2 linked regions of the Homo sapiens genome follow. The protein of the gene in region 1 interacts with the protein of each later gene in a pairwise test. Each region holds a gene or a part of one and is shown in the gene's direction. Other genes may lie near its edges.

Region 1 (2,932 bases):
TTCTTACTCGACAGAATTGACTTCATGGAAGGTATGTAGTTTGACTTTGCCTTAGCCATGTTGATCAAATAGGAGTATTGTGCATGCCGCAGCTAGACAGAGTCCTGGGCCCTTTAAAAACCTTGTCAGTGACTCCCATTGCAGGCCCAGCGCAGTGGTTCACACCTGTAATCCCAGCATTTGGGAGGCTGAGGCAGGCAGATCACTTGAGGCCAAGAGTTCGAGACCAGACTGGCCAACATGGCAAAACCTCCTCTCTACTAAAAATACAAAAGTTAGCCAGGCGTGATGTTGGGTGCCTGTAATTGCAGCTACTCGGGAGGCTGAGGCAGGAGAATCACTTGAATCCAGGAGGCGGAGGTTACAGTGAGCTGAGATCATACCACTGCACTCCAGCCTGGGCCACAGAGAAAGAACGGTGATTCTTTCTAGCAGAAATTAGCAGAGTAAGTGTTTTTGGAACAATTGCTAATGAAAAGAAGGAAAAACAGAAAAAAAAAATTTTCTGTTTATGGGAGGTGACTTATTTCTCTATCAATCCTGTGAGTGATTTAGCATGGCAATTCATGAACACTGAGTTGTTTCCTTGCTCTGATTGTCTGTTGCTCAATGAAATGGCTTTTAGCAGGGCTCAAAGGTGAAGCCAGATTCTCCTGCACTAATAGGATAAGCATGGAGACACCAGTGTTCAGTGTGGCCTCTGGTTGTCTGAAATTTTGCTGTCAACTCTAATACCTTGAAAGAATTAGGTTTCCAAAGTGGGATATTGTGCTGCTGTTTGTGATATAGCATCTAGACTTAGGAAAGGGCAGGAACAATTTAAAAGCACATCTGTAGGCACAAAGAGAATTATAATAGAAATTCAGAATTCCTAGGCATATGACCTAGACTAAAATGTCTTCATAACTACAAATGAAATCAGGGTCATTTATAGTACAAACTACCACAGAAGTCAGTAGTTAGGGGATGGAGATAGATATGAAAAAAAAAAAAAGCAAACCCAGCCTAACTCCCAGGGAGGGAAGAGGGGCGACAGATATGCAGCTACACAATGTTTTTACTATCTTGAGTTCTTTTTACCCAGATTCCATAGCTAAATCCAGATGTATTAATAGGTAGAGACTACTTCAGAAAGGATGAGACTATTTTCTTGCTTAATTATCCACACAGTAATTCAGAAATGTATATTGAACACTTTTTATATGCCAGGCACTGCTGGGCACTGGAAATATAAAAGTAAGCAAAAATGAAAAACTATCCTGTCCTCCTGAGGCTTAGCATCTAAGGGAGACAGGCATTAGTCAACCCCGTGTGGCTGTGAATCAGCCATGATGCTGAGTGCTACAAGAGAGGACTGTGCGGCTGGGAGGGCTTATAACAGGATTTGACCTAGTTAGGGAAGATCTGAGGAAGTGATGAAAGAATGGAAATCAATATGTAAGAGCTCACAAGTCAGAGTGAGATGTTTCTTCCTATACTGCCTGCTTCTAATGAGCATCCACTTCATTGAACCACCTCTTCATTGAGCCAAACCTACCATACAGGGATACATTCTCTGGAGGAAAGTTGAGCAACTATTGCATTTGGGACATTAGAGTATGGGTGGGCTGACAGGTATGTGTATGTTTATTATCCAAGACAGCCAAGGTGTTTATCCTGTTACAACATCCCAGAGGACAGAGGCTCTTATTTGTGACTCTTTTTTCTTACCTGTAACACCAGAGGCATAACGTACATCATAATGCTGCATCTTGTTGACGCTTCAATGCTCACAATTCAAAGGTGATTTCTGAAGCACTTTGTTACACTGGGGACAGCTCCTAAATCCTCCCACTCTTTTTTTGCCTCACCTTGGAGTCTTGGGCTCTGTTGATCACTGACTCTGCCAGGTCTTTCAGCAGGCAAGACAGCTCAGTTAAATTGAGTTTGGACTCCACTGTAGTGCATGCATGAGACAGCACCCCCAATCCCCAACACCCACACACAAACTTTAAATATTTGTAACAGAATTGTTACCATTAATATTGCTTAAAGGCTAACACATTAGCCAGAACCTAGATGTCTTCTGGAAATTTTTTATTGCAATGTTACTTCATCTACATAAAGTTGTCCAATCACTGAAACCTCCAACTGAAATAAATGGTAAGCTTTTTGTTCTCAATTCTGAAATCAGATTCATTAAAAGGCACATGGGGATAGATGATATAATACAACAGGCTTCTTCATGGGAAGCAGTTCCCTAGATGTATGAGGTAATTGGAAAATTCAAGGCTGGTCTCTCAGGTGCATATAATTTATCCAACAGACTCGAGATAAGGCTGATTTTTTTTCCAAGTGGTATTTGTTTAAATGACAAATACTGAGGTTCGGGAGAAGGGAAGTCTGGCTTATAAAAACAGATACCAAGGAGATCCAAACTAAAAATTCTACCAATTAGATCTTTATTCACTGATCATAATATTAAGTCTCTACTATGTGCCAGGAACTGTCCTACATCGGGACAGTATGGTAGTTTAAAAATATCCCTGCCCTCATAGAGCTTACAATCTAATATGAGAGGACAGACAACAAACAGAATATATACATGTTGGCCTGTAATCCCAGCACTTCGGGAGGCTGAGATGGCCAGGAGTTTGAGACCAGCCTGGGCAACATGGCAAAACCCCATCTCTACAAAAAATGCAAAAAATTCACCAGGCATGGGGTCGGGGGGGTGGTGTGCCTATGGTTCCACCTACTCCAGGGGCTGAGGTGGGAGAATCACTTGAACCTCGGGAGGCAGAGGCTGCAGTGAGCCGAGATTGTGCCACTGCACTCCAGCCTGGGTAACAGAGAGAGAGAGACCCTGTCTCCAAAAAAAAAAACCACAAAACAAAACATATATATATGTGAGATGGTGATGAAACTGGGCAACTCTGGGGTGGGAAGTTGC
Region 2 (7,975 bases), about 110 Mb from region 1:
GCTTGCACTTGGGAGGCGGAGGATGCAGTGAGCTGAGATCGTGCCACTGCACTCCAGCCTGGGCGACAGAGCAAGACTACATCTCAAAAAAACAAAAACAAAAACAAAAAAAACAGGGAAGCAGAGGTTGCAGTGAGCTGAAATCATGCCACTGCACTCTAGCCTGGTCGACAGAGTGGGATGCTCTGTATTAGTCAATTTTCACACTGCTGATAAAGACATACCCAAGACTGGGTAATTTATAAAGAAAAACAGACTTAATGGACCTATAGTTCCTCGTGGCTGGGGAGGTCTCACAATCATGGTGGAAGAGTAAAGGCACGTCTTACATGATGGCAGATGAGACAGAATTAGAGCCAAGCAAAAGAGGAAACACCTTATAAAATCATCAGATCTCATGAGACTTATTCACTACCACCAGAACAGTATGGGGGAAACCACCCCCATGATTCATTTATCTGCCACTAGGTCCTTCCTACAATTCATAAGAATTATGGAAGCCACAATTCAAGATGAGATTTGAGTGGCGACATAGCCAAACCATATAACCCTGTCTCGAAAAAGAAAAGAAAAGAACATAACAGAACAGAACTCAGTCTCCAGCTCCCAGCAAGCAGGAAGCCTCATTTTTGCATCTCAGTAAGGATCCTCTGACATGCAAACTTCATCTTTTTCTCCATGTTCCTACTATACATAGAGTGGTCATACATTGTCCAAACTAGAACCTTTTTGAGAGATAAAAGGAAGACACTGAACATGTGAATGAAAAATGGCCAGACCAAATGCAAAAATAGAACTCTGACTCACAATCTGCAGCAACCAGACCAGAAAACCAATATATCATCTACAAGTCAGACATGTAGGAAGTTAGATCACTATCACTAGCAAACAATCCAGGAACCCAGCAACAACCCCTGTAACAAACGGCCCCAGATGGCAAAAACTTTATTAATAAATGATAGCTTTTCTAATTTTTGGACCTGCTGTCAACATAGGACCAAAAAGAAAACCAACTGTGCATCCCAACCAAACACATAGGATGCTCTGCTAGTTCTATTTAGCCCACCTATAGCTTCCCTATGACAACAGTCTTCAGTTAGGGCGTACCTGAAGCCTTCCCCTATTCCCCACCATAAAGTTTTCCCACTCCTCTGCCTGTCTTTGAGGCTCTGCCAAAACACAAGTGATGGTGGCTGACTCCCTTGTTATAGCAAACTCTGAACAAATAGTCTTCACCTCTTCTTATGTATTTGGTCTTCATGTATTTCCACAAAGGGGATACTAGCAATAATTTTGCTGAATCAAAAATCAGGACTGTCCTGAGCAAATCTGGACATAAATCACCCTAGTTATGAAGCACAATTAGACCAGAAGCTGTTTGCTTGTGAAATACTGTATGAGGTTTAGGAGAAAGTGTGAAAGACAAAAGATAAAATACGCCACTACCACTAGGTGGGGTTACACCACCAAAGAATGGAGGATGCTTCAATTAAAAAAGGAAGTGCTTAAAGTGTATATGCACTTAGGTTACTGTTCAGTAATCTTTTTGGTTTTGATGCATGATATTGTAAATCCAAACATTGGAATCAATGTAAAATGGTCTTCAGGGCAATAATTGATGAAATAATTCCAACGAGAAATGTTCAAGCATATTATCATCTAGTATTAATTCACTTTCAATTATTGCCTTCTGCACCTGAAGCAGTAGTGAGATGAACAACACATTCCCTGCCTTTAAGAAGGAGGTGGCTGGGTGCAGTGGCTCATGCCTGTAATCCCAGCACTTTGAGAGGCCGAGACAGGCGAATCACGAGGTCAGGAGTTCAAGACGAGCCTGGCCAATATGGTGAAACCCTGTCTCTACTAAAAATACAAAAATTAGCTGGGCATGGTGGCATGCACCTGGAGTCCCAGCTACTTGGGAGGCTGAGGCAGAAGAATCGCTTGAACCCGGGAGGCGGAGGTTACAGTGAGCCAAGATCGTACCACTGCACTCTAGCCTGGCAATATAGTGAGACTCCACCTAAAAAAAAAAAGAAGAAAAAGAAGAAGAAGGCAGCATTCTAGAGTACTTCAAGTTTACATATGAATGGCTGGTTACATAATTTGTAAGACCCAGTGCAAAATGAAAATAAGGGACAGCTTATTCAGAAAGCATTTCAAGATGGCAACAGTACAGCATTAAACCACCTGTGGGGCCCTTCTGAGCACAGGGCCCTGTGTGACTGCAGAGGTCACATACCCATGAAGTCAACCCTAAGTGTAGGATAGTATTCTATGACAAATTATAGACTAATAAACTATATTGCCTAGTACATGTCATGATACTACTAGGCCTTTCAATGTGGTTGTTTATTTGTTCGTTTTTTTGAGATGGAGTTTTGCTCTTGTTGCCCAGGCTAGAGTGCAATGGCGCAATCTCAGCTCACTGCAACCTCTGCCTCCCAGGTTCAAGTGATTCTCCTGCCTCAGCCTCCCAAGTAGCTAGGATTACAGGCATGGGCCACCACACCCGGATAATTTTGTATTTTTAATAGAGACAGGGTTTCACCACATTGGTCAGGCTAGTCTTGAACTCCTGACCTCAGGTGATCCACCTGCCTCTGCCTCCCAAAGTGCTGGTAGTATAGGCATGAGCCACCATGCCTGGCCTCAGTGTGTTTTCATTCTATGTTGGACATTTGGCATGCACAGAATTACATTTCATTTTAAAAATTACTGAGCATTGACTACATTTGTACTATATGCTGTAGGGAATCTTTGCTAACATTTAATCAAGCACATAAATACCTAATCAAATTTTTTAAATGTTATAAAAAGTTAGTTATAATTCTTCCACTTTTCCCCACAAGCCTAAAGCGCAGAGCAGAGACTGAAACTGGTAGGCACTCAATAAACACTTGTTGAATGAATGCAAGAAGGCTGGAAAGTCCAATATCAAGGAGTTGTTATTTGGTGAGGGCCTTCTTGCTGTGTCATCCCATGGCAAAAGGCAGAATGGCAACAAAAGAGCCAAATTTTATTCAGCCTTAAAAGTGAAGGAAAGGCCAGGTGCGGTGGCTTATACCTGTAATCCCAGCACTTTGGGAGGCCAAGGCAGGTGGATCACCTCAGGTCAGGAGTTGGAGATCAGCCTGGCCAACATGGCAAAACGCCATTTCTACTAAAAATACAAAAAATTAGCCGGGTGTGGTGGTACACACCTGTAGTCCCAACTACTTGGGAGGCTGAGGTGGTAGAATCTCTTGAACCCAGGAGGCGAAGGTTGCAGTGAGCTGAGATTGCGCCACTGCACTCCAGCCTGGGCAACAGAGCAAGACTCTGTATCAAAAAAAAAAAAAAAAAAAAAAGAAAAGAAAGAAGGAAATTCTAACACATGCTATATGAGGGCATTAAGCTAAGAAACAAGCCAGTCACAAAAGTCAAATACTGGAAGATTCCACTTATATGAGGAAGTTAGTGTAGTCAAAATCATAAAGACAGTAAGTAGAATGGTAGTTGCCAGGGGCTGGGGGGAGGGAGGAATGGGGAGTTATTTTTTAATTAGTATAGAGTTTTAGTTGTACAAGATGAAAAGAGTTCTGGAACTAGATGGCAGTGATGGTTGCATATTATGAATGTATTATCACTAAACTGCACACTTTAAAATGTTTAAGATGGTGAATGTTCTTATATTTTACAACTAAAAAAATAAAAAATAAAACTACACATAGTGAAGAAGTAGGAAATGAAGTTGCAACCAAACGGATCAATATTTTGAGTGGGAAATCTAATACTTAATTCAGTGCTAATTTTTATATTTTTAGTAGAGACAAGGTTTCACCATGTTGGCCAGGCTGGTCGTGAACTCCTGACCTCAAGTGATCTGCCCGCCTCGGCCTCCCAAAGTGCTGGGATTACAGGTGTGAGCCACCGTGCCCGGCCTCACGCCCTTCTCTTAATTCCATTTTCTCTCCCCTCTGCCCCTTAATACACTGCACTTAACCTTGTCATAAGCCAAGGAGGACCTGAAATAAGAATACTCAAAACACGGTTGAAATAAACAAGAAGACAGAAACTAAAGCCAGCATTTTTTTTTTAATGCTTGGTAACTGTCCCTTTGTGTCTCCCTAAGTGCAGGATAAACTTCTTGGGGCAAATACAAACGTTTGATAAAATTCTGGGCCAAGGAGTCCTGCACTGGATATATTCAACAAATTACCTGCCGATGATAACAGCGTAAGTCAAACGAGTTCTAAAAGTAACAAATGACTTAGTTATCTGGATAAATCCGTCCTTCCTTTTCTTTTTCACCTAGCCCTTTTGTCGGGCCTCTAAAATGTAAGATAACTACGTGGGAAAGCAAGCAGCGGCTGGTGGTGTGTTTTTACCCTGATTTTATCACTCCAAGTATCTACCGTGGCTGGTTTTGCGAAGACTAGCTTTGTATCAGAATGAGGTGTGGCTGGAACGCCTGAGGAAAGCAAACCAAGTTTTCCAGAGGACGCCGTTGACAGCGTCTCCGCACACCGCGCCGGGGTAGGAACTTCCTCCCACCTGGTTCGCCCGGCGGGGAACCAATAAAGTTGAGCGCGTTCAAAGGGGTCCTAATCTTCCAGGGTCCACTGGGCAGGCCTGCAAAATAAGGCCCCTAGAAACTCCCTGAGGTTTTCAAGTCTTCTCCCTCTCCTCGGAATTTTTTCCCCTTCATTCGCATTACTTTTATTCTGACGGAAACGGCGCGGGCTAGGCCCCAGGAGGGGCGCATTTCAGGTGCAACTGGCCCGGCGATCGCGGCGGGCAACCCCTACGAGGCCCCCGGTTGACTAGGAGCTGGCGGTCCGAGCTGTGGCTTGGAAGACCGACGCGATGAAGCCCAGACCTGCAGGGTTCGTGGATAATAAACTCAAGCAGCGAGTCATCCAGGTGTGTATTCTGCACCGCTTGGCCTCGCCAAGGGCCCCGATCGCTGCCCCAGGGTGCCACTCCCCTTTTGTCGGGTGGCATCCAGGTGGAACTCAACTAGTCTTCTTTCCCCAGTCTGGGTCTGGGCGTGCGTCTGTTTCTCCTTAGTTGGTGCTGCCGGGGCCTTCCCTACCCACGTTGGTGCGGAGTCTCAGGGAGAAGCCGGGGATGGTGGGAGGGTGCAGCTTGGTAGGGCTGCCCAAGTTGTCTGGTCGTCTTCAGCGCAGATCATTCAGTAGAGTGGAGGTAGCCTTTGAATTTTAACCTCTTTGGCTTGTGAAGTTAGCACAGGAATGGTCTTCAAACGCTCGCATTGTAAGAGGTCCTTGAGAAGGGGTGGCATAAATAATATGTTAATTTCCGTTCTCAAGGAACTTACACACTAAAACGAGATAACATGGGTCTGGCAACAGTAACAGGCACTTTGCCTACGGTTTTCTCATTTTCATGACCATCAGTAAAAAGCAGTGTGTGGCAAATACCTCAGAATGTAAGCAAGCAGTCTGAGTTAAAAGGTGGGAGAGAATTTTCTTCACTTAGGAATTTGTGAGCTACACATTCTCCTTGTTTTTCTTTCACTTCACCAGCCCCTAAACAATCTCCTTTTCGGACCCATCTTTTCCTACCAACTTGTAAATGTTGGAAGTGCTCTGTGCCACTGTTCTCTTACCTCCCCTTCCTCCTCTTTCCTCATACACCTTTCTTATCTATCCATACTTCCTATGTGATCTCATTTAGTGTAATAACCTTTGAGTAGTATCTACATACTCTATTATCTATGTATTTATTTCATTTTATTTTTATTTTTCTGAGACATAGTCTCGCTCTGTTGCCCAGGCTAGAGTGCAGTGGCTGTTTATGGGCACAATCATAACTCACTGCACCCTCGGCCTCCCTGACTCAAGTGATCCTCCCTCCTCAGCCTCCCCAGTAGCTGGGACTACAGGTGTGCACCACCACACCTGGCTAATTTATTATTATTATTATTATTTGTAGAGACGGGGTTCCACTATGTTACTCTGGCTGGTCTCTAACTCCTGGGCTCAAGCGATCGGGCCTCAGCCTCCCAAAGTGCTGGGATTACCGGTGCAAGCTGCTGCACTGGCCTCTGTATATTTATGACTGCTAACTTTATATCTCCAGTCCAGATTTTATCTTGAAGTACAGATTGATATATCCAGCTGCCTAGTCAGCATATCTCCAAATTAAAATGGCCAAGTGGAATTTGTGATTTTTTTCTTCCTTCAAATCTGCCCTTTCTTAGTGTTCTGTATCTCAGTAAATGATACTACCGTTCGTCCTGTTGTTAAGGCCAAAAACCTTAAGGATCATTCTGAGTCTTTCATTTCCTGTATACCATCTGTCAACAGCCTGGTTGGCTTTACTTTCAAAATATATTCCAAGTACTTCTTACTGTCTTTCCCTGTAACCATCTTAGTCCAAACCATCATCTCTACCTTATACTATTACAATAGCCTCCTAACTGATCTCTCTGATTCTGCTTTTACCTAAAGCCTATTCCCCACAGAGCAGCCAGAGACATCTAATTTTTTTTTTTTTTTCTGCTCACTGCAACCTCTGCCTCCTGGGTTCAAGTGATTCTCCTGCCTCAGCCTCCCGAGTACGTGGGATTACAAGTGCATGCCATCACGCCTGGCTACTTTTTGTATTTTTAGTAGGGATGGGATTTCACCATGTTGGCCAGGCTAGTCTCGAACTCCTGACCTCAGGTGATCTGCCCGCCTCAGCCTCCCAAAGTGCTGGGATTACAGGCGTGGCCAAGACATCCTTTTAAAGGGAAAAATCGGGCTAGGGGAGGGATAGCATTAGGAAAAATACCTAATGTAGATGACGGGTTGATGGGTGCAGGAAACCACCATGGCACCTGTATACCTATGTAACAAACCCGCATGTTCTGCACATGTATCCCAGAACTTAAAGTATAACTAAAAAAAAGGGGGGGGAAATCAGAGCTTGCCATAGCCCTGCTCAAAACCTTTCAGTGGAGTCACAGACATCTAGAGTAAAACCCAGTCTGAAAAGCCCTGCATATTCTGGCCTCTGTTGTCCTAGTTTACTTTTCCTCTCCTGTCCCAGCCACACAGACCTTCTCAAACATGCCAAGCACAGGACCTTTGTTCTCGTTGTTCAGTCACTCTGAATTACTCTTCCTCTGGATGTTCCCGCGTCCCACAACTTGCTCCTTCACTTTATTGAGGTTTCTGAGCAGTGACTCCTAATTACTGGATCTAGTGGCCTCTTCTCTGTCCTCACACTTGACTCTTTTCAGCGTTTGACATTATCAGTTTTCCTCTATAGCTTTCACTTTGGTTCATTATAAAAGTACAAATGAATATCCCTTATTCTAAATGCTTAAGACCAAAAAATGTTTCAGATTGATTTTTTTCAGGTTTTGGAATGTTTGCATATACATAATGAGATATTTGGGGATGGGACCCAAGTTAAACATGAAGTTTATTTATGTTTCATATACACCTTACACACATAGCCTGAAGATAGTCTTACACAATATTTTAAATAAATTTTCACTTAGCTATATATTTAATTTAATTTTAATTTTTTATTTTTGAGACTGGGTCTAGCTCTGTCACCCAGGCTGGAGTGCAGTGGTGTGAACACTGCTCACTGCCATCTCAAACTCGTGGGGTCAAGTGATTCTCCCACCTCAGCCTCCCATGTAGCTGGGACCACAGGTATGCACCACCATGTCTGGCTAATTTTAAAATTTTTTGTAGAGATGAGATCTTACCACCTTGCCCAGGCTGGTCTCGAACACCTGGACTGAAGCAATCCTCCCGCCTTGGCCTCTCAAAGTGCTGGGATTACGGGTGTGAGCCACCACGCCCGGGCTTATTTATGTATTTATTTTTGAGATAAGGTCTCGTTCTGTTATCCAGGCTGGAGTGCAGTGGCTCGATCATAGCTCACTGCAACCTCTAAGTCTGGGCTTAAGCGATCTCCCACCTTGGCCTCCCAAAATGCTGGGAGTATAAGCACAAGCCACCACATC

What was found.
Region 2: the proteins of TTF2 (region 1) and NVL interact in a two-hybrid assay, tested with the Homo sapiens proteins (one study listed by BioGRID and IntAct).

The regions. Positions count from the first base shown.
Region 1 is NC_000001.11:117,105,293-117,108,224, forward strand, and holds the end of TTF2 (transcription termination factor 2), read left to right. Parts: 3' UTR 1-2,161; downstream 2,162-2,932. UniProt on the Homo sapiens protein: DsDNA-dependent ATPase which acts as a transcription termination factor by coupling ATP hydrolysis with removal of RNA polymerase II from the DNA template. May contribute to mitotic transcription repression. May also be involved in pre-mRNA splicing.
Region 2 is NC_000001.11:224,327,001-224,334,975, reverse strand, and holds the start of NVL (nuclear valosin-containing protein-like), read left to right. Parts: upstream 1-4,803; 5' UTR 4,804-4,848; coding exon 4,849-4,905; intron 4,906-7,975. UniProt on the Homo sapiens protein: Participates in the assembly of the telomerase holoenzyme and effecting of telomerase activity via its interaction with TERT. Involved in both early and late stages of the pre-rRNA processing pathways.